Linked DNA regions of Homo sapiens. The protein of the gene in region 2 purifies or fractionates together with the protein of the main gene of each other region. This does not show direct contact. Each region holds a gene or a part of one and is shown on either strand. Other genes may lie near its edges.

The links. Proteins that work in one complex are often made in the same cells at the same time.
Region 1: the proteins of COCH (region 2) and CARS2 purify together in Homo sapiens (affinity purification with mass spectrometry; one large-scale study listed by BioGRID and IntAct). This does not show direct contact.

The regions. Positions count from the first base shown.
Region 1 is NC_000013.11:110,644,017-110,647,116, reverse strand, and holds part of CARS2 (probable cysteine--tRNA ligase, mitochondrial), read left to right. Parts: coding exon 1-16; intron 17-485; coding exon of another isoform or gene 486-756; exon of another isoform or gene 757-1,020; intron 1,021-1,026; coding exon 1,027-1,150; intron 1,151-2,510; coding exon of another isoform or gene 2,511-2,534; exon of another isoform or gene 2,535-2,633; coding exon 2,634-2,732; intron 2,733-2,934; exon of another isoform or gene 2,935-3,052; intron 3,053-3,100. UniProt on the Homo sapiens protein: Mitochondrial cysteine-specific aminoacyl-tRNA synthetase that catalyzes the ATP-dependent ligation of cysteine to tRNA(Cys). In addition to its role as an aminoacyl-tRNA synthetase, has also cysteine persulfide synthase activity.
Region 2 is NC_000014.9:30,877,559-30,881,058, forward strand, and holds part of COCH (cochlin isoform b precursor), read left to right. Parts: intron 1-13; coding exon 14-170; intron 171-1,252; coding exon 1,253-1,386; intron 1,387-1,864; coding exon 1,865-1,927; intron 1,928-2,893; coding exon 2,894-2,938; intron 2,939-3,028; coding exon 3,029-3,176; intron 3,177-3,500. UniProt on the Homo sapiens protein: Plays a role in the control of cell shape and motility in the trabecular meshwork.

The sequences.
Region 1 (3,100 bases), on a different chromosome or scaffold from region 2:
CGATGCTGTGGGAGAGGTAAGAGGCCCGCCTAGCACCCGGCGTGGCACCCCTCCTGTGGCCTGCTGGGTGCTGCTGGTGGGCTCTTGAAGGGGAAGAGGGGCCCCCAGGAGACAGGGCGCTGGACAGGAGGTTTGGGGTCAGGGACTGCCCAGAGAGGCCCCAGGAGACAGGGTGCTGGGCAGGAGGTGCAGGTGTGGGGTCAGGGGCTCCCCAGAGGCCACAGGGGACTGGGAGCTGGACAGGAGGTGTGGGGTCAGGGGCTCCCCAGAGGCCACAGGACACTGGGTGCTGGACAGGAGGTGTGGGGTCAGGGGCTCCCGAGACATCCCAGGGAGACGGCGCTGGCAGGAAGTGTGCCTGGGGCCCTCGGGCTCTGAGCCCCCTGCTCAGAGTGGCTTTGGGCTCGGGTTCCCTGTGCGAGGAGCGGAGCTGCTCATCCCTCCCAGTCCTGACTGTGAGGAGCCAAAATCTATAAAACACACAGGCCTGGGCCCACAGCATCGCCTCCACTCCCCACCCACGGGTGTCCTGGGCAGCGCTGCACATTCATCCCGGCATGCAGAGTCTTCCGGATGGTCTTGGTGATAACCCACCCCTGCCACTTCAGCAGGGTAGGCAGCCAGTGGCCACGGGAGGCTGAGATCCGGGAGCCCCGGGCTGGGCCTCCCCAGCCTCTCTTTGTGAGTGGTCAGCCGTGCCGTCTCTCCCCCACCGAGTCTTCCTTGCCACTCCCCTCAATATCTATTGATTTTTAAAACCATCATGAAAATGCCCACGTGTGTCTTGTATTTTAAGTGTCACAGGTGACCTCTGCTCTGGGACTTTTTCTTGGGGTAACATGACAGTTTGCAGTTGATGTTACATAATTTTCTGCTACTCAGGAACTCAAGTCTTTGGGAATATGACCTAGAGAAAGTCCCCAGATTAGAGCCCCCAGCGTCTCTCCCTGGGGAAGGACTGGTGTGGGGGCCGCCTGGGGAGAGTGGAGCTCCCTCTGCTGTGACTGTTCTCTCCTCTTCCCTCAGGCTCTCCAGCACCAAGAGGGCCGTGAAGGCGGCCTTGGCAGATGATTTTGACACACCCAGGGTGGTTGATGCCATCCTGGGCCTTGCACACCACGGGAATGGACAGCTCAGGGCGTCCCTGAAGGTAGCTCAACGAACAGGTGGCCTTGCGGTCCTGCTGCCAGGGGCATGGGTCGGGTCCTCTGGTGGGTTTTTCTCATGTCGGCTGGGTGGCATCTCTGCTGATTTCGCCTCCCGCAGCTTCTGTGGAGGAACTCATGGAGCCCGAGTCTGCCGCTGACACACGGGATGGCACCCAGCCTGGGGCTTGACCCTCCCGGGCCTCAGGGCCACCTGGGGAACAAGCTCTCAGGAGCCCCTGAGGCTGAGAAATTCTGTGTGCTTGATCCTCAGGGGACACATCTCATGTCCCCACTGCATTCATGGCCCTTTCACAGAGAGAGCTTTTGTGGGGAACTTTTTAAGGAAAGACCCATTTACCCCAAGGCACTGTTATGCAATCTGCACCCCAGTGTGATGACCACACCAAGCACCCAGGGGTCTGAGCCTGGACTCGTGGGTCACTGCAAGTGTTTGGCAGGTGGGACAAAGACCGTGAAGGCGGCGGCAGGCTTTGGTTCCTGCACGTCTGAGGGTCCCCTGCCAGGCCCTGGGAGGCGCTGCGTCAGGAGCCCCGTGACCTTTGATGACCCGGGAAGCCGAGGCTGTTTGTGCCTCTCCCACCTCTGGAAACACCTGGGGGTTCTGGCCACATGCTCTGTTAGTTGAGCATCTCTGTGGAGGTCTCCATCCCTGGCTGCGTGCAGTGTTGGGTTTCAGAGCACCAGCAGGTGGGGCAGGGTGCCATGTGCCCTTGCCGGGTGCCTTCGGTCCAAATACTGCAGACGCGCAGGGCTCGCCTCTGAGGGGGGCGGGCATTTGAGTCACAGCCGGCTGCAGGAACAGGCTGCCCCGCACTGAAGGCAGCCAGGCCGGGCTGGGGCAGGTCCCGCAGCCAGGCTGCTCCTGCACGGGAGCTCCTCCTCCTCAGCCCGTCCGCGGCCTCCTGCCTTCACCGCAGCTGCTGCCGGCACTACCAGGCTGGCCCAGCTCTAGGGCAACAGGGGCCTCTTGTGGCAAGGGGCGGGACAAGTAAAGAGGCTGGCTTTTGTCCTGCGCTTTTCCTTCCCAAGCTTTGCAATTCTGGGGCACCTGCAAACTAAGGCTAGTGTCACCCAAGGGTCTCTGTGCTTGGTAACTGATGTGAGCCACGTACCAGGATTTCCCCGTTTTCTGAGAAACCCAGCCCAGTGCCCACTCAGCCTCCACCTACCATGCGCCACCTGCCATACTCCACGGTCATGCTTCACCCGCGAAGCCTGATGAGCTAGTCACCACCCACATGACTGATGGGTAAACTGAGGCACAAGAGATTCCTCATGCACCTATAGTTGTATGGTCTGCAGTGAGGTAGCCGATGCCAGAGCTGTGTCCTCCCTCCATAGAAGCCAGGAGAAAGGCCAGACTGAAGTGACCTGCTGAAGCCTTTGTCTTTTGACATTGAATTCCGTTTGCCCACTGCCATCAAGACTGCTTTTAAGGAGCTTCTGCGACATGATCTCTTACAGGAACCTGAAGGGCCGAGAAGTCCTGCTGTGTTTGGTGCCATCATCTCTTACTTTGAACAGTTTTTTGAAACTGTTGGAATTTCTCTGGCAAATCAACAGGTAGGTCCTATTATTTTAAATGCTTAATTCTGGAATTTTCTCCATGTTGGGACAATAACCTTTACCCTTTTAACTTGGAATAGAGCATTATGATGCCACACTAATGTATTTACCTGTTTAAAAACATGTTACTTTCCTGGAAAAATAAACACACTCAGAGCCAATACTTATTAATTGGAATTGCACAATTCTACTTCTGCAGTTGGCAAACTCTCGTGCGCAGAACCAGAGATGAGTCCATCTCAGCAACAGAATGTCGCCAGCTCTGCACACACGTTTATGTTCAAAGACTCTCAGAATGTGCAGAAGTCACAGGCACAGTAAGAGAACATTTTTTCCTGACCCATTTGAGGGCAAGTTGGCGACCT
Region 2 (3,500 bases):
CCTTTTTCTTCAGCTCCCATTGCTATCACATGTTTTACCAGAGGCTTGGACATCAGGAAAGAGAAAGCAGATGTCCTCTGCCCAGGGGGCTGCCCTCTTGAGGAATTCTCTGTGTATGGGAACATAGTATATGCTTCTGTATCGAGCATATGTGGGGCTGCTGTCCACAGGTAAGCCCAAACACACCAGGGTGGGAGAGAAATGCAGACGTGATTATTTCCTTTCCTGCTTTACCCATCTGGATCCCTTTCCTCCCTGCATTCTTTCTTTTGTTGCCATTGTGGCCACAGAAAATGGATATATTTTCACGGTTCTCCTGGATATACTTGAAACACCAAATACACATGGAAAGCTTTCTGACAAAAGGCAAATAGCATTACCTCTTGATGGCTAGATTGCTATGATTCCAAAACATTCCTAATCATGTGATATATTACTGAGTTATTACTATGTGCCACCTATTGTTTTAACTTCCACCACAACTCTACAAGGTAGGTAGAATTTTACTCCAGTTACAGATGAAGAAACTGAACTCAGAGAGTTGTCAAGTATCTTGCCCAAGGTGACTATTGTTAGCAAGTGCCATGCTATCCTGTAGTAGAATAGCCAGTATAATACTTCTAAAAAAATTCAGTCCAAAGGCATGTAGCTAAAGTGAGTATCTTAGGAAAATTGTTTGGTGCTCTGAATTTCTAAGTTGTGGGTAATGGGATATTACAAATGTGTTCTTATCAACACTTAAGAAGTTCAACAGCACAAAACCATTTTTTTCCAGGCAAATTTTGTTCTTGTGTAAGCAAGTTTTTAAAAGGCTAGCAGCAGCTGGGAGTGGTGGCTCACACCTGTAATCCCACCACTTTGGGAGGCTGAGGCGGATGGACCACTTGAGGTCAGGAGTTCGAGACCTAGCCAACATGGTGAAACCCTGTCTCTACTAAAAATACAAAAATTAGCCAGGTATGGTGGTGCATGCCTGTAATCCCAGCTACTTGGGAGGCTGAGGCAGGAGAATCACTTGAATCCTGGAGGTGGAGGTTGCAGTGAGCCGAGATCGCGCCACTGCACTCCATCCTGGGCTACAGAGCGAGACGCCATCAAATAAATAAATAAATAAAGCAGAATCTTTAGATGACTTCCCTGATGAGCTATTTTCTTGATTAATCAAAGCAATAGATACAACATGGCACTATAAGTCAGTGGGATGCCCTGAAAAAGTGTGGATAGCATCTCAGCTGCTATTCTTGTGTTACAGGGGAGTAATCAGCAACTCAGGGGGACCTGTACGAGTCTATAGCCTACCTGGTCGAGAAAACTATTCCTCAGTAGATGCCAATGGCATCCAGTCTCAAATGCTTTCTAGATGGTCTGCTTCTTTCACAGTAACTAGTAGGTATAATTATTGTTCTCATTCTGTAATATTCTCCCACCCCCCAAACGTTTTCTGCTTTTTTTAGCTCAGCCTCTTTAACCTTGATGGAAAAACCTGTGATCAAGACTAAAGCTGACCTATAGAGGTAAACTGTAGGTTAGACTGAGGGGTCAAGTACCCACTGAAGCCAAATTTGGGTGAATAGAAGACAATCTTACTGACAGATGATGGCAATAGAAACTTGAATTATTTGCAGTCAGAATGCCCGGACACTTACCAAGGAACTGAAAAACTACTAAATACATTTTTGATGATCCTTTGAAGATATAATGGATAAGCATTTTGGTTCTCTGAAACTAGCATGCAGCAGGATGTTTGTAACTACAATCACCATTACCCTATTACATTTGTCATTGTAGAGAGCTCTAAATTAGATTCATAATACTTTGGTAAAGAAGGAAAAGGAAAAAAATAAGCTTATTTTTATTTTAACAGAAGGCAAAAGTAGTACACAGGAGGCCACAGGACAAGCAGTGTCCACAGCACATCCACCAACAGGTATGAACTATGAAACCTATCTCCTAGTTGCCCGGCACAGCATTTGGAAGTTATGAATAAACGTGTTGTTGGTAGAAGCTTTTCTTAAAGAAATTTGATATTAAAGAGAAACAAAGCAAATACCTTAAGTTTACTGGTATATTACATATGGAAACATTCATTATGTGTATATTTTAAAGACAGGGTCTCACTCTGTTGCTCAGGCTGGAGTACAGTGGTGCAATCATAGCTCACTGCAGCCTTAACCTCCTAGGCTCAAGCAATCTTCTCACCTTGGCCTCCTGAGTAGGTGGTACTACAGGCACATGCCACCACACCCAGCCAATTTTTTTGATTTTTAATTTTTTTTATTTTTATTTTTTTAGACAGGTCTAGCTATGATGCCCAGGCTGGTTTTGAACTCCTGACCTCAGGCAGTCCTCCCACTTCAGCCTCCCAAAGTTCAGGGATTACAGGCATGAGCCACTGCACCCAGCCTAATAATTCTCTAAAAGTCCTATTTTCTCCCAGATTTGATAAACCACGCCTAAGAACTGGTCAAAGTACCATGAACTTCTAGTTCCATTTGCTTCATTAAATTCCTTTAATTACTGCACTGTCATGTGACTAAAAGGAATGTGTGTCTATTGTAAGAAATAGCCAGGGATCCCCTTTTGTATGACGATGGCAGTTTTAAAGTCAAAGATATTAAGAACATTAGGATTTAATGTTGAGTTCCTGCCTCACCTGTGGGTTTGGGGTATTAAAGTCCTGGATTAGGGCATATCAAATATGTAGGCCTACATACTGATTTGTTTATTTGTTGGGTCATTGCTTTCCCTAGTCCAGAAAATCCTGAGGAAATTAATTTTTTTAAAAAAGTCCTTTCAAGAATGGCACTCTGTTGTTATGAGCTTCTCCCCATGTGGGTTTCTTGCTATGTAACTGTCTTCCTTTTGTTAATGCCAAGTGCATCTTTTATTTCAGGTAAACGACTAAAGAAAACACCCGAGAAGAAAACTGGCAATAAAGGTAAGAATCAAGATCTCCATTTGGGAAGGTAGCATTTTCCCTCCCTCCTCTTGAGACTGCTAATGAGGGGACTGGTTTGGTTGTTCGCAGATTGTAAAGCAGACATTGCATTTCTGATTGATGGAAGCTTTAATATTGGGCAGCGCCGATTTAATTTACAGAAGAATTTTGTTGGAAAAGTGGCTCTAATGTTGGGAATTGGAACAGAAGGACCACATGTGGGCCTTGTTCAAGCCAGGTACCAACCTTGTTAAAATGGGAGATTTAAAAAAAAAATTATTTTGTAATTGACACATAATAATTATATATACTTATGGGGTACATAGTGATGTTTTCATACATACAATGTATAGTGGTCAAATCAGAGTAATTAGCATATCCATCACCTCAAACATTGATCATTTCTTTGTGTTGGATACATTCAAAATCAAATGAGGCCGGGTGCAGTGGCTCACGCCTGTAATTCCAGCACTTTGGAGGCCAAGTGGGTGTGTGGATCACCTGAGGTCAGGAGTTCAAAACCAGTCTGGCCAACATGTGAAACACCGTCTCTACTAAAAAT